Regions from separate parts of the Homo sapiens genome. Here regions 1, 2 and 4 are each reported to be linked to region 3. The links are microRNA targets in miRTarBase. Many come from high-throughput screens and were not tested one by one. Region 3 holds a microRNA gene; each other region holds the end of a gene's coding sequence.
Evidence for each region. The annotated mature microRNA hsa-miR-4324 reads CCCUGAGACCCUAACCUUAA and lies in region 3 at 2,168-2,187, shown strand. An mRNA with a match to its seed (bases 2 to 7 or 8) in the 3' UTR can be bound and repressed. Matches are read on the target gene's strand: a 7mer-m8 pairs with bases 2 to 8, a 7mer-A1 pairs with bases 2 to 7 and ends in A, and an 8mer does both.

Region 1 (5,164 bases), not on the chromosome of region 3:
GGGCCCTGCTGGCACTCTGGCCCCTGCTCAGCCTGATGGGCGTTCTGGTGCAGTGGAGGGTGACAGCTGAGGGGGACTCCCACACGGAAGGTAAGGGGGCACAGGCCAAGGTGGACATGAGAGGAGTGGGTGGCCAGGGATGGGTTGGGGGCCAAGTGACTGGGGAGTGGGGGACAGCAGCAGAAGGCCTCGATGGCGGTAGAGAGCTGACTTGCTCAGGGTCTGGGAGGATAGCACCCAGGTGCCATCATTCATTCCACAACAACATATGGAGTGCTGGCTCCGCACCAACCCCATTCCAGGCACCAGGGATACAGCAGAGATAACACAGACAAGGTTCCTGTCCTTATGGATTCAAGGCAGGCAGGAGACAGATAACAGAGATGCAAACAAACATGATTCCAGTTGTGTAGAGTGATATGACAGAGACATTGTGCAGGATAATGTGAAAGAATGACCTATGGAAGCTATTAGAGTTAGGGTGGTCAGGGAAGGCTGCTTGAAGGAGGTGATATGTAAGCAGGCACTTGAAGGCTAAGGGGCCAGCCATGCAAAGAGCTAGAGAAGAGGGAACAGCAAGGGCGAGGGCCCTGAGAAGGAATGAGCTCAGCTTGCTTGAGGAAGTGGGGCAGGAGTATGGGAGGTGAGGTGTGGGAGCCAGAGTGATTGCGTGGACCCTCTGGGTCATAAGAAGCACTCCACATTTTATTAGAAGGGCAATAAGACTTTAAACCACTGGAGAGTTTAAAGTAGGGGAGGATAGAATCTAATTTAGCTTTTGGGATGCTCATTCTGCTGCCGAGTGTAGAAAGCATTGGAGGGAGCAAGTGTAGGGGGAAACCAGTGAAGAAGCAGCTGTGATTGTCCAGTGGAAAGATGATGATGGCTGGCCTAGGTGATTGGGAGAGGGATGACAGCCTGGAAGGGGGTACCTGGAAGCCTAGCAACCTTCCATAAAGACCTATGGAAGAAAAGAACAACAGCGGGAAGTCTCCTCTGAGAGGTAGGAGACCAGGAAAGGAAGTGACAGGGTGGGAGTAAGGGGTTATGGACAAGAGGAATCTGGAAGCCTAGAGCCACAGGTGGGATGAGAGAGGGAGGGCTCAAGGGAAACAAGGCGCACCGTCCTCTGAGCTCCTTCTCTACCCATCCCACCACAGTGGTCATCAGCCGGCAGCGCCGACGCGTGCAACTGATGCGGATTCGGCAGCAGGAAGATCGCAAGGAGAAAAGGCGGAAAAAGAGACCTCCTCGGGCTCCCCTCAGAGGTCCCCGGGCTCCTCCCAGGCCTGGGCCACCAGACCCTGCTTATCGGCGCAGGCCAGTGCCCATCAAACGCTTCAATGGAGACGTCCTCTCCCCGGTGAGCTCCCTGAGCCCATCCAGCCAGAATGAGAAGGAAGTGTGGAAACTCTTTCCAAACAGGACTGGGCTTTCCCCACGGGCTGGTTGCTATCTAGAAGGCCTGTTTGTCCATGAACTGTTTGTCCATGCATCGGAGCCCATGCACCAGGGGCTTGGCGGGTCCAGCTGGTGGGGGAATTGGGGGAAAGGTTCCTGAGTATGGGTTTTAAGTGGGATATGGTATGTGGTGGGGTCTCAGGGCTGTGGACTCTGGGTCTATGGCAGTCTATAGAAGTGTCAGGCTTGTGGGAATTCAGGAAGAGGTGGCTTTTAGGGCAGGATTCTGCGGTGGGACTCACACCTATGTTTGCTCCCCCACAGAGCTATATCCAGAGCTTCCGAGACCGGCAGACCGGGAGCTCCCTGAGCTCCTTCATGGCCTCACCCACAGATGCGGACTATGAGTATGGGTCCCGGGGACCTCTGACAGCCTGCTCAGGCCCCCCAGTGCGGGTATAGCCATATCTGTCTGTCTAGACTCTGCAGTCACCAGCTCTGCCAGCTCGAGGAGGCCTGCTAGGCTGCCACTCAGCCTCCTGGCTTTGGCTGTCCCTCTCCCCAGCCTGGAGAGGGCTGGCCTGGTCACTAGAAGGGAGGATTGTCTCAGGCGAGTCTTGGCCTGAGAGGAAAGCCCCCTCCCAAGCTCCCAAGAGGCTCCTGAGGAACTCGGGGTGTGAACCCCATTGGGGTGTGCTCAGGGTTGTGAGTGTGTTGCCCGTGTGTCTGTGTGTATGTGTGTGGGGGTGGGCAGGCTTGGAGGGGACGCTGGGACCCTTGCCTTAGATTTCTGACTGGTAGGGTTTCTCCAGGCTCAGCCCCACCTCTTCACTCCCTGCCAAGGTCCCATGGGCCACCTCCTGCATGTCTCCGCGGAGGGGCTACCTTCCTTCCCATCGCCCTGCCTCGCAGCCAGACTCATCTAAGGGTTCTTGTCCTTGTCTATGGGGCAAACTGTAGCATCCCTCACCCTGGTCCCCTGGCCTCTGTAAAGCCACCAGCCTGAGGGCAGTGGCAGGAGATGGGGGTGGGGGGGTGCTGCTCTGGGCTGGGTTGGGAAGGGAGTTGGGGAGGGGTTTAAATGCACGGTGCATGTCTGGTGTCTGTCATGCCAACCTAGACACCTCATGCTTCTGTCTCCCCCACCCCACTCTGTTTTACATCTTTTATAAATGTGCCAAACTGTGTGGCCTCTGCCAGGAATGGTGGTCTTTGGTGGCTGGCACTTTCATGGGCCAGGTACAAGCACTACAGCCCTCGGTCCCCAGTGTCGCTCACTGCACAGGGGCTCCAGGCAAGGTCTGCCCCCCCACATCACTCAGAGAGGCAAGGAAATGAGCTGTAGCACTTTTATTGTTCCTTGTCTCTCTACCCCTGCCCAGGGTAAGGGCAAACGCCTTCCAAGCTGTCCAAGGGCACCCGCCTGGCCTGGTTAGGTTCTCCTAGTTGCCTGCAGAGGAATGACTCCACATGGGGCTGGGGAGAGAAGGGGGTACCACCTTCCTCTCCCCTGGCAGAGCCTGGACACCAGTACACAAAGAGCTGGGCCCCCAGGTTCTGCCCTACCCTTTCTGGGCCTTGGTTAGGGCTGTCTTGGCGGCAGGAAGGTGGGGGTCAGCTAGGGGTGGGGCACAGCGCGGCACCTGAAGGGAATGCTGGGATTTGGGATAGAAGGTGGGATGTCTCTTATGGGGAAGAGGAAAGAAAGAGGCTTCTGCCAAGGCTGACATGGAACTTGCTGAGATGGGCAGAGGCAAGCTGGGCAGAGGGCAGGAAGGAGGAGGGACAGGCTGGAGGAAGGCAGTGTTGGTGAAGTGGGGAGGAAAGGAACTGGTAGAAACAGGGCTGTTCAAGAGAGACAAACATGGTCCAGTGGCAGGAGAGAGGAGAAGCCTGGCAAGAAGGGGCGTAGAAAGGTGGGAACAGCTGACCAGGAGCAGCTGATCTGAGCCAAGCAGTTCCAGGGCTTTCCAGCCCTGGGTGTGCTCTACCCCTCCCCTCCCCCATCCCCACCTCCTACGTATCCCAGGACCCGTTGCCACCCCAAGTTCTGGAAAGCCTCCCATAGGTGTGGCTTAACCCATCAGCTCCCAGGCGCCCTCACCCTCCTGCCGCTGCCCAGTTGGCTTTACTCACCCTCTACCAGCAGCCGTGTGTGGGTGCTGTCCTGGCCGGCCTGGCAGCAGTAAGTGCCTTGGTCCTCAGGTCGAACGTCATGGATGACCAGGCTGTGGGTGGGGCCGTGGCTGCGCATCTCATACTTATCTCCCGGGCACAGCTCGGCCCCCTCCCGCAGCCAGCACACGTGGCCCCCCGAGCGGGACACAGTCACCTCCAGCACCGCCCGGCGGCCCACCAGAACGGTCTTCTCGCGAGGGGGGTGGCGGCACATCTGGAGAGGCAATGCTGGGGGTAGGGGGCGGGGGCTTAAGTTAATAGGGACACGCATGGCCCCCAGGAGGAGAGATGCATCTTCCCTCCCTGAAGTCTCCACTCCTGGCCTTAGCCCTCTATGCCACCAGTCCGTTCCCTTGCACCTCAGACCCAAAGTCTCCTCTTGCCGGGGAAACGCGCTGCCCTCTGTGACCCGGCCCAGGAGAGCCCCTCGGGGGGAAGGGAAGAGAGAGGCAGCGTTCTTGGGGCCAGCCCCAAGTCCGTCAGTCCCATGGCAGGAGAGACAGGATGTACACTCTCTGTCGCTCCCACCCCAGGTGCTTACCCTCCACTTCCAGTAGAGCCAGGGACTGGGCGGGCCCCGCCTGGAAGCGGACTTCACCGGCGTCCTCGGCGCGCAGCTCGCTAAGCACCAGAATGTGTTTCTTCCCTGGGGGTGAGGGGGTCGCTAGCGAGGCCGGAGCCACCTCTGAGGAGCGTTGGGGACGAAGGTGGGGGCCCAGCAGGCCCCTGGGTCGGTTCGGACGCCGTTAGTGTATGCTAGGGTGGGCGGAACAGGGATGCGGAGCGGGAAGCCTAGAGGTCCGGGACTAGGGGCTGGGGGCGGGGGAAAGAACAGGGACGAGGCTCACAGGGCCGTGGGGCGGGGCCCGTCGGAGCCAGGGGCGGGGCTTGTCCCGGTGGGGCGGGATCTGTTCGAGCCTGGGCGGGGCAGCGAGGGGCCCGAAAGGGTAACCAGGCGGGCAGACCTTCCTGTCGGATGCGGACGCGGGCTCCGGGTCTCAGCGGGCGGCCTCCGAGCTCCCAGCGCCCCGTGGTCTCGACCTCCGACACGGTGCACTCGAACGTAGCGCCGTCGCCTTCGCGGGCGCTCACCGACCGCAGCTCGGAGAGTACCGCCACAGTACGCTCTGGGGCGGAGCCCGGGGCGTGAGCGGGGCGGGGCAGAGGGCAGTTACCGGTCACGCCCCCTCCACGCCCCCTTTCTAGAAGCACGCGCGGTCATCAGGGTCCGGGGAAGACAGCTCCGCAAGTCTCGCGCCCAAAGCAGTGCCCAGCCTCCACATCACCCCGTACCCACCGCGCACGGTCAGGCGGACCGGTCCGGCGCGGGCCGTCCCCACCGCGCAGCTGTAGGTCCCGGCGTCCGAGGGGCCGCAGCGTCGCAGCTGGAGAAGGCGGCGCGTGCCGAGGGCCTGGAGCCGGAGCCGCGGGCTAGGCGTAAGCGCGTTCCCGTCCTAGGGGCGGGAGTTGCAGAGGGTCGGGGCGAGCCCGGCTGGGCACAGGCGACCCCGGCCCTGGCAGGCGGCGCACCCTTTGTTGATGCCAAGCGGTCTCGAGGCGCGTTTATGCGTGTCTCGTGTTCCCA
Region 2 (5,164 bases), not on the chromosome of region 3:
CAGCATTCCTGTTGTCTGGACCCTGACCAACGTCATCCATAACCTGGTGAGCACTAAACCACGCCCTTGTACCCACCCCAGGGTTTCCCAACCAAAAGCAAAATAAAATCACCAATTGTTTGGGGATTTATGTGTTCCTTTTGGGATCTTAACATAATTCTTTGACTGAAAAACTACTTTCTGCCCCTCACACTGCCACCTTCCCTGTTCCCAGGCTACGTATGTCTTCCTTCATACGGTGAAAGGGACACCCTTTGAGACTCCTGACCAAGGAAAGGCTCGGCTACTGACACACTGGGAGCAAATGGACTATGGGCTCCAGTTTACCTCTTCCCGCAAGTTCCTCAGCATCTCTCCTATTGTGCTGTGAGTCTATGGGGGAAATGAGATATGCTGGGTTAGAAAGAGCTCCAAGAGCCAGGTAGAAAGGCCCATAGGGAAGCTGTTAAAAAGCAGACTTCTCATCTAAAACCCTTTGAAGATATTATGGTATACTAGTTCTAAGCCTACAGAGAGCAGTAAAATGTAGATTACAGTCAATACTGTAATCAAGCATTCCTTGCTGCCTCCTTGGTAGTAAGGAAATGAAGGGACTGAGAAAAGATAAGTGCCAAATAAAACCAAATGATTTTACACTGCCAAAAGAAGTAAATAAAGGCAGAACTGATATTAATCTTCAAAAACACTGTAGGGAGTGGAAGCAAAGAGGACTGTAACAGTCATACAGACTGAAATAGCTTGAGCCGTCATTTGCCATGTCATTAACAATTAACAGATACTGACTTACAGTCTCCAGTTAAGGGTGCTATCTCCTGAACCCCAAAGTAAATGCTGTTGATATAGCTGGAATAGTTTTAGATAATCTAGAACTATATACAGTAAAACTGGTCATTTAAAATAGAAGAGAAAGAGCAGGGCACTGTGGTGCATGCCTGGAGTCCCAGCTACTTGGGAGGCTATGGCAGAAGGATTGTTTGAGCCCAGGAGTTTGAGGTTGTACTGCACGTATCACACTTATGAATAGCCACTGCACTCCAACCTGGGAAACATGGTGAGAACTGTCTCTTAAAAAAAAAAAAGAATATGGATAGAGAAGGTCAACCTCACTCACCCTATTTTTTTCTCTCCCCAGCTATCTCCTGGCCAGCTTCTATACCAAGTATGATGCTGCGCACTTCCTCATCAACACAGCCTCATTGCTAAGTGTACTGCTGCCGAAGTTGCCCCAGTTCCATGGGGTTCGTGTCTTTGGCATCAACAAATACTGAGGGATGGGTTTTGGGACAGCTCCATGGGCATGGGGAAGGCACTGAAACAGAGGACTATAAAACATCCTTCTCTTATTCTCCATACTGTCTTCTACACCTTTAAAGCCTGAGAACTATACAACCTTTCCCAGACTCCCAAGAAGAGAAGAGATTGGCAAATGGGGCTCCTGGGCCCAGTCCTGCTAGTGGCAAGTTTCTTTGAATCAGGAAGGCAGGTGAGGTAAGGGCCAAATCACTCTCCTCCATAGCAGGAAGCCATTTGGGCAGCTTCTTTGGTGATTACATCTTTCCATATCTTTTACACTTACCACCTTCCAGCTCTGTTTTGCTGTGTATTTTTCTTACAATAATTTTTTTCAGCTATAGCTGCAGTTTAATCAGGATGGGTAGAGAGCTGTCCTCATAAGGCTGGGGGTGGGAAGATGGAATACTGACCTAATGTATAAAACTTAAAACAATTCTCCAATCCCCTCTCCTTTGGTCCAGTAGGAGGTGCCCTTCACTCTAAGCTTAACACTTAGTAGGGAAGAGATTCTCAAATGAGAAAAAGGGCTCCGGCTATATGGGCAACAAAGAGGGAAGATACAGGTTGCCAGTTATACATTTATAGAAAGATAATCCCCTGGCTTTAAATAGTCATGTACATACAAATATGAACAAACTTAAAAAAAAAATACAAACCCTTGGATCACATGGGGGCTTCTGGGAACCCCCGTATTCTTCCCCCTCACCCAAGGGCAGTGGGCATGAATCTACTTTTTAAAAATGATTAATTTTGGCCATCCTTGCAGAAAAGAGCCTAAAATTGGGTGATTTACCCACAAAGTGAAAGTCGAGGGAAAATTCAGTTTCCAGTCTCTGAACTCTATGCGATAATCTCCTATCATTAGGGCTACATGCTTTCTTGTTCTCTTTTAAATATTATATCAGGATAAAGGAGAGGGCTCCCTCCTGAAATGGGTCAAGAAAGAAGATAGACTTGTAGCTTTAAAAGGGTGGGAAAAAGTGTCATCTGCCCTAAAAGCAAATGACAAGACAAAGGCATACAGACCCCAGGGAAATACCCAGTTCCCACACCTAAAGGGATACACTGTCCAGCCCAGGTCCAGGCCCTAGGTTCTTTACTCTAGCTACCCCCTATTTCTTTGGTATTGTCAAAAGACAAGATTCAGGCCGGGCACAGTGGCTTATGCCTGTAATCCAGCACTTTGGGAGGCCAAGACGGGTGGATCACCTGAGCTCAGGAGTTCGAGACCAGCCTGGGCAACATGGTGAAACCCCGTCTCTACTAAAAATACAAAAAAGAATTAGCTGGGCCAGGTGTGGTGGTGTGTGCCTGTAATCCCAGCTACTCAGGAGGCTGAGATGGGAGAATTGCTTGAACCCGGGAGACAGAGGTTGCAGTAAGCTGAGATCACACCACTGCACTCCAGCTGGGCAACAGAGCAAGACTCCATCTCAAAAAATAAAAAGAAAAAGATTCAGTTCCTAGGTGTTGGGGGAGGAGGGATAAATCAAACTCCATCCTGTGCTACAGCCCTTTTGACTCCCTGACATTGATTTGAGGAAAGAGAAGGGGCATCAACGTTGGAAGGGCCTCCTCACTTTCTTCCGCCGCTTAGGTTTGGCTTCTCCCTTGGGTACTGTGCTGTTGGGCTTAGAGGCTGCAGCGGCTCCAGGGGCAGGCTGAGGAGCTGCAAAGAAGTTCCCATTGGGCATCTGCCCTGGGGGTACTTGAAAGATCCGACTCAAGAAATCCTGAAGATCAGCAGGAGGGGCATCTGGGGTGGCTCTGAGGTAAAACAGAAGAAATAAGGCAAGAGATGTTAGAGTCATATGGTTACCTAAGTTAGATATACTTATCAGTTCCCAAACTTCCTAGAAAACAAGGCCCCTGGGTGTCCTAAAAAGCAGGTCATCTGAAACCGTATTCAAAACTGAAATAGTGGATAGATTATTGACAGAAATACCACCTACCTCTGCCGCCCTCTGGTGCCTGGAATCCGAGAACCAAATGAGATGTGATAGGGGACTCTGTGGGTATCTGGGGAGATACCTACACGCTGGCATCCAGCCCACTCTATAAACATGAGAAATAATTAGCCAAAACGTCGCAGTTTAGAGCACATAAAAGATCAGGAAGTATGAGCCTGTATTTCTAGAGGACAGAGAGTACCTGTGATGTCATACACCTTTCCATCCATCAGTGCAAAGTAGGTGATCTTGAGGCCCAACATGCTTGACTCTGCCCAAAAGTCTCCTTCCTCAGCAGGATGCAGCCTATTACACTCAGCACAGTATCTGGCACTCTTAGGTTCCCGGTCCATTTCAAACCTCCTGCAACCAACAAAAGGATAGTTCCTTAATAATTTGTCAAGCCTACCTAGGGCACTGCTAGTAGTCTTACCATTATTCACAAATAGGGCTGAAACATCTAAAATTACCCCACTTAGTATTTCATATCCCTTCAACGTTCTATCCTAAAGCTAATGTTTCTTAGTGCTAATTAAAATCGTCAGTCTATTGACAATATGACAAAGGTAGAAACTTAAGGGTCTTTTTACTAATTATGAGATACAGATGTAACTCATAATTACCAGTACTCACTAGAAAGATCCTTGGTTACATAATCCCTGAGCTGTGATTGTCCCATCCCTCTCCTTCTATTTCATACCTATGCTTTCCTTGGCATCGGCTACACATCATAGTATTCATTGCCTCCTTGAGGTCATCTTGCAGCTTGGACAGAAACTCATTTACTGACCGGCTCAGCTCATTCTCTGCCATTCGTTTCCTAATAGAAGAAATGCTTTGTAAGTCAGAAGGTATTGAGGGAGGGACAAAGGAAGACATATCAGTTGGCCTCTTGAGGCCCCTGTCTAGCGAGAAAGACAAGTGACTTCAGTTCTCTCCATCTCAACAAGCCTCCACCCCCAAGTCCAGATGCCTCTGCTATTGAGGATTTTTCATTTACCATTATCTGATGATTTCCCATCTCCAACTTACATCTCATACTCCTTTCGCTTTTCAGCATTGCTGACAATGTCCCAAGCTGCTCGCAAAACCTTGAAGGCCTCCTCAGCCCGGGGATGATGATTTTTGTCAGGATGAACCTACCAAGACAGAGAGATTTCATTACAAATCCATTCCAACCCTCTCCTCACCTTGAATTTATTCTCATATCAAAGGGTTCTCTTTCATCACCCTTTTGAAGAGTCAGTGTAGCTTAATGATTAACTGCTCTGACTCTGCAGATCTGGTTCAATTCATGGCTCTGTTATAATTAGCTACATTACCTTGAATATCTTTTTTTTTTTTTTTTTTTTTGAGATGAAGTCTCGCTCTGTCACCCAGGCTAGAGTGCAGTGGCACGATCTCAGCTCACTGTAACCTCCACCTCCCAGGTTCTAGCAATTCTCCTGCCTCAGCCTCTCTAGTAGGTGGGATTACAGGCATGCACCACCACACTCAGCTAATTTTGTATTTTTAGTGGAGACGGGGTTTCATCTAGTTGGCCAGTCTGGTCTCGAACTCCTGACCTCAAGAGATCTGCCTACCTCAGCCTCCCAAAGTGCTGGGATTACAGGCGTGTGCCATCATGAATATCTATCATGGATTGTTGGGATTATCTATCATGTCAGCCTGAATATCTATCATGGATTGTTGGGAGGATTAAATAAGAATATATATGAAGTATGTAGCAAAGAATCAGGTACTACGGTGGATTCATCATTCCAGTTTGCCTGAGACTGTCCCAGTTTTAGCACTAAAAAGTCCCATGCCTCTAGAAACTCCTCAATCCCAGATGAACAGGGACAGTTGGTCTCTGGCACACACATGTATCAGTCATAAAATAAGAGTTCCAAAGATGTTACATCTTGAAACTCTTTTTTAAC
Region 3 (5,164 bases):
TTCTCTATGAAGCCATCTTGTCTCTGGCGCTTTGCCTACCTGTGGCTTAACAGTGGAGGCTGTAAGTCTGGGGACCAGGAAACCTGGGTCCACAAGGGGCAATCAGGACAGAGTCCTGTCCAGGCTTTAACCATGAATGTTTCTGAGATATGTAGAGACTAAAGACCTGGTGCTCTGAGCAGGATAGGAGCCAGGTCCCTGGACACTTAGGATCATGAGAGGTTCAGGGTATCTGAACATGGGGATGGCAAAGCTGGAGGCCTGGGCCCAAGATGGGCTGGAAACTAGGTACTTGGGTCTTCCAGGATTTGGGGGCCAGAGGACTGGACACTTGGGACCGTGAGGGATGTAGACATGGGTGAGCCCTGATGCCTGTGGCCCTGGAAGAGGTCGCTGGTAGGGAGAATGTTTTCCTGGGCTCCTGGAGTCCAGGCACTGAAAGGCCACATGGTTCTCAGAGTCCCTTCTGAATCTTCTTCACAGGCAGTTTCGCTGCCATCTACATCTTCATGCTGTTCCTGGTCGGGGTTCCTCTTCTCTTCCTGGAGATGGCAGCTGGTCAGAGCATGCGTCAGGGTGGCATGGGTGTATGGAAGATCATTGCCCCCTGGATTGGTGGTGTGGGGTATTCTAGCTTCATGGTGAGGAGCCCATGGCTGCCCAGGCCTGACTTTTACACCCCACCGCCATCCCAACCCTCCTCCTGAAATGCGCCCTGTGAATACCTCCATGGGTCAGATCCCTTTGGTTCCCCAATCCTCTGTCAAATCCCCTCCCTTTTCCTGTCCCTGCTCTTCCTCCCCAGCCATATCCTCCTTGGCCCCCAGGTGTGCTTCATCCTCGGCCTGTACTTCAATGTGGTCAATTCCTGGATCATCTTCTACATGAGCCAGTCCTTCCAGTTTCCCGTTCCATGGGAGAAATGTCCCTTAACGATGAACTCTAGTGGCTTTGGTGAGGAGGAAGTGAAAGAAGAGGAGAAGGGAAAAATGGAGAAGTAGAAGTAGAAGGGAATTTGGAATAGGAGAGAGTGGGGAGGGACAAGGAAGAGGAAGAAGAAGGAAAAAGAAATGGGAGAGGGAAAGAGAAAAGGGAGGTGGGGGAGGGGATAAGGAAGAAGAGGGGGTACCTTGTCTAGCAGGCATGTCTAAAGCCAGGTCCCCCCAGATCCTGAATGTGAACGGACAACACCCTCCATATACTTCTGGTACCAGCAGGCCTTGAAGGCCTCAGACAGAATCGAGGATGGCGGGTCACCAGTCTACAGTCTGGTCCTGCCCTTCTTTCTTTGCTGGTGTCTTGTTGGTGCTTTCATGATCAATGGGCTCAAGTCCACTGGGAAGGTGAGCCACCAGTATTGGATTCCTTGAAATTCTCAGATGCTTTAGCCCTTACCTCAATTTGTTACTTGTTGATCTCCTAATCTCTTACTCCTTTGGCTTTTACTCCCCTAGCCCCTGACTCTTGCTGAAGGCTTTCTTCTAACTCCTACTCATTTCTGACTCAGAACTTTTGATCCCTCCTAACTGTTGGTTGACCCCTACTGGTACACGGTTGCTGATATGTCCCACTCTCGATTCAGGTAATCTATGTCTTGGTACTGCTCCCCTGTTTCATCATTGTCGGTTTCTTCATCCGGACTCTACTCCTGGAAGGGGCAAAATTTGGCCTTCAACAGTTGGTGGTTGCCAAGGTGAAATCTATCTCCTCACTCCCCCGTCAGGCCTTGTAGGGCACCACAGCTGCCTATTCTTAGAGCTTCCTTTCCCCATTCTTTACTTTTGTATCTCCCTCTCTCCTCCCTGCAACATTTCTATTATAGTTGTCCTCTGCTTCTTCTTTTACAACCCCCTTATGCTTGTCTTCTCTCTTTTAGATATCGGATGTGTACAATATGAGTGTGTGGTCTCTAGCAGGGGGTCAAGTTTTGTCTAACACAGGCATAGGCCTTGGCTCCGTTGCCTCCTTAGCCTCCTACATGCCCCAGTCCAACAACTGTCTCAGTGATGCCTTTCTCGTGTCTGTGATAAACCTGCTCACTTTGTTGGTTTTCACATCTTTCAACTTCTGTGTCCTGGGCTTCTGGGCGACAGTCATCACACATCGCTGCTGTGAGAGGTAAGGCCGGCCCCTTTGTTAAGGGTCTCAGCTCCAGGGAACTTTAAAACCCTGAGACCCTAACCTTAAAGGTGCTGCAAAGACCCATGTTCACACATTTCAACCTTGGGTGCACTTGCAAGCCCTCTACCTTCCCCATAGCTAAAAATGGAGACAATAGAATCTCCTATCATATATTATCCTTCTCAGAGCCTTTTGTCACCCTAGAAATAAATCTTCAAACTCAGAGATTGCCAGCTATCCACCTCAGAGTGGATATGCTAACAGGGATGTACTAAAAATTGCAAACATTGAAGGCTTCTCTAATCCCAGATACACAACAAAATACCATCCAAGACCATACCACACAGAGACTTCCAAGGCCATCCTTGGAAAAATGGAGAAGTAGAAGGCCCCCATTATTTTATTTTATTTTTATTTTTTGAGATGGAGTCTCGCTCTTTCACCCAGGCTGGAGTGCAGTGGCGCGAACTTGGCTCACTGCAAGCTCTGCCTCCTGGGTTCAAGCCATTCTCCTGCCTCAGCCTCCTGAGTAGCTGGGACTACAGGTGCCCATCACCAGGCCCGGCTAATTTTTTTGTATTTTTAGTAAAGACAGGGTTTCACCATGTTAGCCAGGATGGTCTCGATCTCCCGACCTCATAATCCGCCCGCCTCAGCCTCCCAAAGTGCTGCGATTACAGGCGTGAGCCACCGCGCCCTAAGGCCCCCATTCTTAACTGTTAACTCCTGAATTGGGGATTTCTGTCAATCTAGCAGAAACTCCAAAAGGATTCTCTGTACTAGAACCTTGATTGTCTGATCACCCCTGTTTCTTATTTTTCTTATTTTTAGGCATTAATTCCAAAAACATCCATCAGACAGACATTTAGGAAGTGTTCTTTCTATACAACAGAGACTTGGACAGGTGAATCAGACCACAGTCCTTGTTTCATTAAGTTTTCAATTTTGGAGGGGGAAGGAAAGGAGAATGAGACAGCCAAAAACTTGTGCTAACTGGTAACTGAAGTGATGGGTGAGGACAGGAGACAGAGCCATTAATTCTGTCTGGACTAGTCAGATGGGGCCTTCCAGAGGAGGCAACCCTGAGTTGAATTTCTCCCAGTAATCTTTTTTTTTTCTTTTTCTTTTTTTTCTTTTTCTTTTTTTTTGCTTCCTCCTCCTCTTCCTCTCTCTCCCAGCAGATTTTTTTTTTTTAATTTAAATTTTTGAGAACAGGGTCCCACTATATTGCTCAGGCAGGTCTTGAACTCCTGGGCTCAAGCCATCCTCCTGCCTCTGCCTCCCAAAGAGCTGGGATTACAGGCGTGAGCCACCGCGCCCGACCTCTCCTAGTAACCCTAACCCTCACAAATAACCACCATTTTCTTCTAGAAGATGCCTGGGAATATACATGTGTGCGTGTGCAAGAGTTCTTGACAGCATATAGTTAGGAAAGGAATTGCTGAGTAGGGTGTGCTCCCCTTCAATTTTATCATATATTGTCTGGTTTTCAAAGTGGCGTAATGCATTGCCCTCCCATCAGGGATGTGTGAGACTTCCATTTGTTCTACTTTTTGCACAACACTTGATTAAACTTGGTTGGACTTTTAAATTGTTTCCAGTCTGGTGGGAGTGTAATGGTAGTTTTTTTGTGTATTTTCAAAAAAACCTTTTATTATGAGCTATTACCTACATATGGAAAAATGCATAAAACAAGGCCGGGAGCAGTGGCTCACGCCTGTAATGCCAGCTCTTAGGGAGGCTGAGGTGGGAGGATTGCTTGAACCCAGGAGTTTGAAATCAGCTGGGCGAGACCCTTCCTCTAACAAAAAAAAAAAAAAAGTGTATAAAACAATGCACTGTGTAACGAACCGTGAAGTAAACATCACCTGTATTAAGAACTAGAATAACCCTAGATGCTCTCTGTGTATCTTTTTCTAATCATAATCTCTTTACTGCCTCCCAGAGGTAACCATCATAAAAGTCAGGATAGTGGTTACTATATTGCTTAGTAGATACGCATACATAGATGATCAAATGTAAAGAAAAACAAGCCGGGTGCGGTGGCTCATGCCTATAATCCCAGCACTTTGGGAGGCTGAGGCAGATGGATCACGAGGTCAGGAGTTTGAGACCAGCCTGGCCAATATGGTGAAACCCCATCTCTACTAACAAATACAAAAATTAGCCGGGCGTGGTGGCACACACCTGTAGTCCCAGCTACTCAGGAGGCCAAAGCAGGAGAATTGCTTGAACCTGGGAGGTGGAGGCTGCAGTGAGCTGAGATTGTGCCACTGCATTCCACCTGGGCAACAGAGTGAGACTCTCTCTCAAAAAAAAAAAAAAGAAAAAAAAAAAACAAAGAACTAAGGATAGTGATTAATGTTTTTCTTTATATTCTATCATCTATGTATGCATAGCTAAGCAATATAATTTGTCCACTTATATAAAGCAATATGTTTAGTTATTTGTTCCCTCATATATACATTCTCTTTGCTTACTTTTGTGCTTTCTTTTTCTCATCCAACATGTTTGCAATATTTATCCATATTGTGTATAACTTTAATCTGTGCTCTTTCTTTTTCTTTTTTTTTTTGAGACAGACTCTCGCTCTGTTGCCCAGGCTGGAGTGCAGTGGTGTGATCTCGGCTCACTGCAACCTCTGCCTCCTGGGTTCACACCATTCTCTTGCCTCAGCCTCCCAAGTAGCTGGGATTACAGGTGCCCACGACCATGCCTGGCTAATTTTTTGTATTTTTAGCAGAGACAGGGTTTCACCGTGTTAGCCAGGACGGTCTCGATCTTCTGACCTCGTGATCCGCCCGCCTCGGCCTCCCAAAGTGCTGGGATTACAGACGTGAGCCACCACGCCAGGCCTAATCTGTGCTTTTAAAATGCTGTATAATGTTTCAGTATATGAATATACCACAGTTTTTAAAAATCCATTCAACTATTGATAACATTTGGAGTCTTTCCAGTTTTATGCTATTAAAACAATGTTGCTGCAAACATTCTTATGCATGTTCCTGATGTACTACATATGTGCACATTTTTCTGGGATATG
Region 4 (5,164 bases), not on the chromosome of region 3:
GTGATACGGCCTAAAGGCTTTCACCATTAGATCTATTTTTGAAAGTGCAAATGGATGTTTCCCTAATTTTATATCAGAGAACCATGCGTACCATGTTTTACTTATATATATATATTTATTTTATTTTTTTAGACAGAGTCTTGTTCTCTTGCCCAGGCTGGAGTGCAGTGGCGTGATCTCGGCTCACTGGAACCTCCGCCTCCCAGATTCAAGCGATTCTCCTGCCTCAGCCTCCTAAGTAGCTGGGATTACAGGCGTGTGCCACCACACCTGGATAATTTTTGTATTTTTAGTAGAGACGGGGTTTCACCACGTTGGCCAGGCTGGTCTCGAACTCCTGACCTCAAGTGATCTGCCTGCCTCGACCTCCCAAAGTGCTGGGGTTACAGGCGTGACCCATCGCGCTCAGCCCATAGTATATGTTTTATTGTTCATTTTTCTTAAGTACTTCCTTTAGCCTCATCTAAGCAGTAATGTCCATGAAATCTGGGCCACAGTTTCCTGACTGACATTAAACAAATACAGAACTATTTAAATTAGAAATACTCATTCGTTTACAACAGAATCCTCTTATATTCCACACGGTTTTCAAGTATTCCTTTCTCTGCGTCATTAGGGTAATTAAAGAAACCCAAGATTTGTTTCAGCAGCTTTTGATTTCCACTGGTAACGGGATAAATCCTCCATAGCGGCTAACGTGGAAGACACCTCACACATCACATCAGCATGCATGCCTTGCCCATACCGCGTGACCTCCAAGGTACCGTGTCCAAATGACACGCAGAATACCCTGCTGCTTTCTTGGAATAACTTTGACCTGCACCCCCAACTTTGTCTTTCACACCTTGAATTGATTTGCTCCCTTCTAAGTTTGCTGCTATATGTCTCCGGCATTGCAAAAAACGTGACTTGCACAGCAAAGGGTCAGCTCTCATTTCTGTGTTTGCTTTCCCTTCCAAAGGTTTAGCTTCTTCTCCCGAGATAAGAAGCGCCTGGCCAACACACAGAGAAACGTGCACATCCAGGAGTCCTTTGGACAGTGGGCAAACACCCACCGCGATGACGGTTACACAGAGCAAGGACAGGAAGCCCTGCAGCATCTGTGACCTTGGCCCATCTCCACCCTCCAACCTGGACTGCCCGCCACCAGCGCCTGCAACCGAACTGCAGCCCAGGGGTCATTGCTGCCTCAAGCCTCTCGGTGCAGATGCACCCTGAAAACTGACCCCTCAAACAGACTGTCTGATTTGAGGATGGACATTGAAAAACTGACGCCAAACTCTAAAGAAATGTTTATTTATACCCAGGGCTATCACTGTTTCTAATAGATGACTCTGATCCCGTAGGATATATATTTAATAATCCCACAAACGGAGGCCAGACTTCTGCGTTAACTTCAGTAACACAAGCTTCTTTAAGCCAAATACATCACTTGCCACTATCATTGCTGTTTGACTTGCTTTGTATAAAATGCTATGTGTAGAGGTTTTATTATCACAGGTGACATAGTTCAGCAGGAGGCATGGAAGGGCTAGATCTTCATTAGTTACATTCATGAAATTGTGATGGTAACGTATTATACAGAATGTATCCATCAGGCAGACAAGGGGTCTGAAGTCACAGGCTCAGTAGCCCAACTCAGACACAAAGCCACAGACAATATGGATGATGGTCCTCTTACCCAGAAACTGGAGACAACTTTGCAGGCACCCTGGCTGCGTTCCTGATAATGCCTAGAGCATGTAGCAATGTTCAAGGCAGGTGCCTTGGAATCTGCTGTGAGTTATGCAGTACTAACCAAACAAAGTTGCTAAGGATGAGATGTTGCAACATTTCTTGTGTGCACTTTTTTTTCCTGACATCTTTTTTTCCTTTTAGGATTCATTAAGTCATATACTTAGTCCCCTGCAAAGAAGAAGACAGATGTCCCAGAGCAGACTGAAAGCGGGGCGTGGGATCCTAGGCAATGCAGGAGGGCAGGTGGGGGAGCTGTAGCAGAACAAGGGTGCTAGGTGGGAAGCTGGCTTGGGGACCACACGTCTGGCTGACTCACAGGGCTATAGCAGCAGACAGAGAGCCAGATGCTCTACTGCAACTGGTGAGTTGGAGGCTTGCCCACATAACACTGTCTTTCTCTCCACCCGCCAAGCATCCAGGGCACAGGGCTGGTTGCTCACAGATTGAGCGAGGTAGCACCTCCTACCAGCACTCAAGTTTATCAGGGCCGCGTTCTAAACATTCTACTGAAGTTTGCTAAGAAACCATTAGGTGAGGCTGGGCACAGTGGCTCACGCCTGCTATCCCAGCACTTTGGGAGGCCGAGGCAGGTGGGTCACTTGAGGTCCGGAGTTCGAGACCAGCTTGGCCAACACGGTGAAACCCCATCTCTACAAAAATACAAAAAAATTAGCCAGGCGAGGTGGTGCATGCCTATAATCCCAGCTGCTCAGGAGGCCGAGACAGGAGAATTCCTTGAACCTAGGAGGCAGAGGTTGCAGTGAGCCTAGATCGTGCCATTGCACTCCAGCCTGGGCGACAGAGTGAGACTTCATCTAAAAAAAAAAAAAAAAAGAAAGAAAGAAACCATCAGGTGAATTTGCAGAATCTAGAATGGACTCTGCTTCCAGATTGCCGAAAAAAAGAAATGATCAGACAGGGTAATTATTGCTGCGTTAGAGCAGTGTTTCTCAAACCTGAGTGCCCATTAGAATTATTAGAATTTATTCTCAAAGAGTATAGAAGCAGGTATACTGATGAATTTCTCTCCCACCCCTGGCCACCTTTGTTGCCCTTCCAACAGGTAACCAAAATTGCCAGTTTCTTGGTTATCTTTCCTAAACACTAAATGTCTCTCTTTTTTTTGAGATAGTCTTGCTCTATTGCCCAAGCCAAAGTATAGTGGCACCATCTCTGCTCACTGCAACTTCCGCCTCTTGAGTTCAAGCAATTCTCATGCCTGAGCCTCCCAAGTAGCTGGGACTACATGTGTGTGCCACCATACCTGACTAATTTTTGTATTTTTAGTAAAGACGGGGTTTCACCATGTTGGCCAGGCTGGTCTCGAGGTCTCGAACTCCTGACCTCAAGTGATTCACCTGCCTTGGCCTCTCAAAGTGCTGGGATTACAGGTGTGAGCCACTGTGGCTGGCCTTTTTTTTTTTTTTTTTTTTGGACACAGGGTCTCACTCTGTCACCTAGGCTGGAGTACAGTGGCACTATCATAGCTCATTGCAGCTATGAACCCCTGGGCTCAAGCAATCCTCCCACCTCAGCCTCCCAAGTAGCTGGTACTACTGATGTGCACCACCATGCCCAGCTAATTATTTTTTGTAGAGACCAGGTCTTACTTTGTTGCCTAAGCTGGTCTCAAACTCCTGGGCTCAAGTGATCCTCACACCCCAGCCTCCCAAAGTGCTGGGAATTCAGGTGTGAGCCACCGTGCCTGGCCAAATGTCACTTTTTTGATAAGTCAGCAGATCCAGCTCTTGAGCACATCAGAGGCTAGATAATCGGGACAGAAAGGAAAAATCAATCCATCAGAAAGTTTATACATGCAATTATGTAAAATAAAATCAAGAACAAAAAGCATATATATATGTACATGTGTGTATATATTCCTTCTTTCCTTTTTTCTTAAGGGACAAGGTCTTACTATGTCACCAAGGCTGGTCCCAAACTCCTGGCCTCAAGCAATCCTCCTGCCTCAGCCTCCCGAGTAGATGGGACTATAGACATGAACCACCATACCTGGCCCTCCTTTTTTTTTTTATTTAAATGGCAGCATAATATATTCATGCTGTTCTGTGCTTTTCTTTTTTCCCCTTGAAATATCCTAGAGAGGGCCAAGGTGCAGTGGGTCACACCTATAATCCCCATATTTTGGGAGGTCAAGTAGGGAGGATCACTTGAGCCCAGGAGTTTAAGACAAACCTAGGTGACATAGCAATAACCCACCTCTACAAAAAATTAATTAAAATAAAAAAATAGGTGGGTGTGGTGGTGTACACCTATGATCTCAGCTACTTGGGAGGCTAAGGCAGGAGGATCCCTTGAGCCCAGTTCAAGGCTGCAGTGAGCTGTGATCACACCACTGCACTCCAGCCTGGGGGACAGAGTGAGACCCTGCCTCAAAAAAGAAAAAAAAATGTATAGCAATAACTCCATATGAGTACATAAGACAGCGGCTCTCATGGCCAGGAGCAGTGGTTCATACCTGTAATCCCAGCACTTTGGGAGGCTGAGGCAGGCAGATCATGAGGTCAGGAGTTTGAGACCAGCCTGGCCAACATAGAGAAATCCCATCTCTACTAAAAATACAAAAATTAGCTGGGCATGGGGGCATGCGCCTGTTGTCCCAGCTACTCAGGAGGCTGAGGCAGGAGAATCGCTTGAACCCGGGAGGCAGAGTTTGCAGTGAGCGGAGATCGCACCACTGCACTCCAGCCTGGGCGACAGAGCGAGACTCTGTCTCAAAAAAAAAAAGAAAAGACAGTGGCTCTCAACCACGGATGACTGAGCCCCCCAGGGGACATTTGGCAGTCTGGAGACATTTTTGATTGTCACAACTGGAGGGGGAGAGAGGATACTGTCATCTATGGGTAGACACCAAGGAAGGTGCTAATGAACATCCTACAATGCCCTGGTCTACCATATGGGGGTGATATTTATTAATGTTTATCTAGGCCCCACTGATGGACAGGTAGCTTCCTTCCAATCCTTTACTCTCAAAAAGTGTTGCACACTGTCACACACACAAAAGTCTACAGAATAAACTAGAAGCAGAATTGCTAGATCAAAGAGTATTTGCTTCTGTCATGTTCATGGAGACTGCCAAAGTCCCTACCATGGAGGCTGTACCATTGTTTTTCTTTCAAAGTCACCACAGCCCATAGAACACTAAGCCCAAATGTACAGGGTTGGAGTCTGAGTGTGCAAGTTTTTTGTTTTTTGTTTTGAGACAGGGTCTTACTCTGTCACCCAGGTTGGAGTGCAGTGGCACAATCTCAGCTCACTGCAACCTCTGCTTCCCGGGCTCGAGCAATTCTCCAGCCTCAGCCTCCCAAGTAGGTGGGACTACAGGCAAGCAAAACCAACACCCGGCTAATTTTTGTGTTTTTCGTAAAGAGAAGTTTTCACCACGTTGCCCAGACTGGTCTCGAACTGC

Region 1: the mRNA of TMEM198 is a reported target of hsa-miR-4324. Seed matches in the 3' UTR shown: 7mer-m8 at 2,006-2,012.
Region 2: the mRNA of ORMDL2 is a reported target of hsa-miR-4324. Seed matches in the 3' UTR shown: 7mer-A1 at 2,508-2,514 and 7mer-A1 at 2,620-2,626.
Region 4: miRTarBase lists RILPL1 as a target of hsa-miR-4324. Seed matches in the 3' UTR shown: 7mer-A1 at 2,446-2,452.

Annotation. Positions count from the first base shown.
Region 1 is chr2:219,547,992-219,553,155 of GRCh38, forward strand. TMEM198 (transmembrane protein 198) reads left to right here. Exons shown (of 5, transcript NM_001005209.3): 3 at 1-90; 4 at 1,161-1,363; 5 at 1,726-2,604. The coding sequence ends at 1,863. It overlaps OBSL1 (obscurin like cytoskeletal adaptor 1), which reads right to left. Exons shown (of 21, transcript NM_015311.3): 17 at 4,877-5,033; 18 at 4,545-4,706; 19 at 4,121-4,225; 20 at 3,538-3,807; 21 at 2,737-2,851. The coding sequence ends at 2,844. MIR3132 (microRNA 3132) reads right to left here and starts at 1,156; the gene lies at 1,082-1,156. RefSeq lists silencers at 4,385-4,544, 4,765-4,854 and enhancers at 4,643-5,143, 5,144-5,164.
Region 2 is chr12:55,819,128-55,824,291 of GRCh38, forward strand. ORMDL2 (ORMDL sphingolipid biosynthesis regulator 2) reads left to right here. Exons shown (of 4, transcript NM_014182.5): 2 at 1-46; 3 at 215-366; 4 at 1,133-2,752. The coding sequence ends at 1,268. It overlaps DNAJC14 (DnaJ heat shock protein family (Hsp40) member C14), which reads right to left. Exons shown (of 7, transcript NM_032364.6): 3 at 4,275-4,381; 4 at 3,943-4,062; 5 at 3,445-3,605; 6 at 3,246-3,348; 7 at 1,858-3,060. The coding sequence ends at 2,850. Among named protein-coding and RNA genes, the nearest start is that of ORMDL2, 3.7 kb to the left of the region's middle.
Region 3 is chr19:49,305,830-49,310,993 of GRCh38, reverse strand. It overlaps MIR4324 (microRNA 4324), which reads left to right and starts at 2,126; the gene lies at 2,126-2,197. It overlaps SLC6A16 (solute carrier family 6 member 16), which reads left to right. Exons shown (of 12, transcript NM_014037.3): 2 at 1-61; 3 at 484-641; 4 at 828-954; 5 at 1,168-1,343; 6 at 1,583-1,693; 7 at 1,877-2,118.
Region 4 is chr12:123,468,480-123,473,643 of GRCh38, reverse strand. It overlaps RILPL1 (Rab interacting lysosomal protein like 1), which reads left to right. Exons shown (of 7, transcript NM_178314.5): 7 at 962-3,590. The coding sequence ends at 1,106. It also overlaps a transcript of SNRNP35 not described here. Among named protein-coding and RNA genes, the nearest start is that of SNRNP35, 13 kb to the right of the region's middle. RefSeq lists a silencer at 4,548-4,842.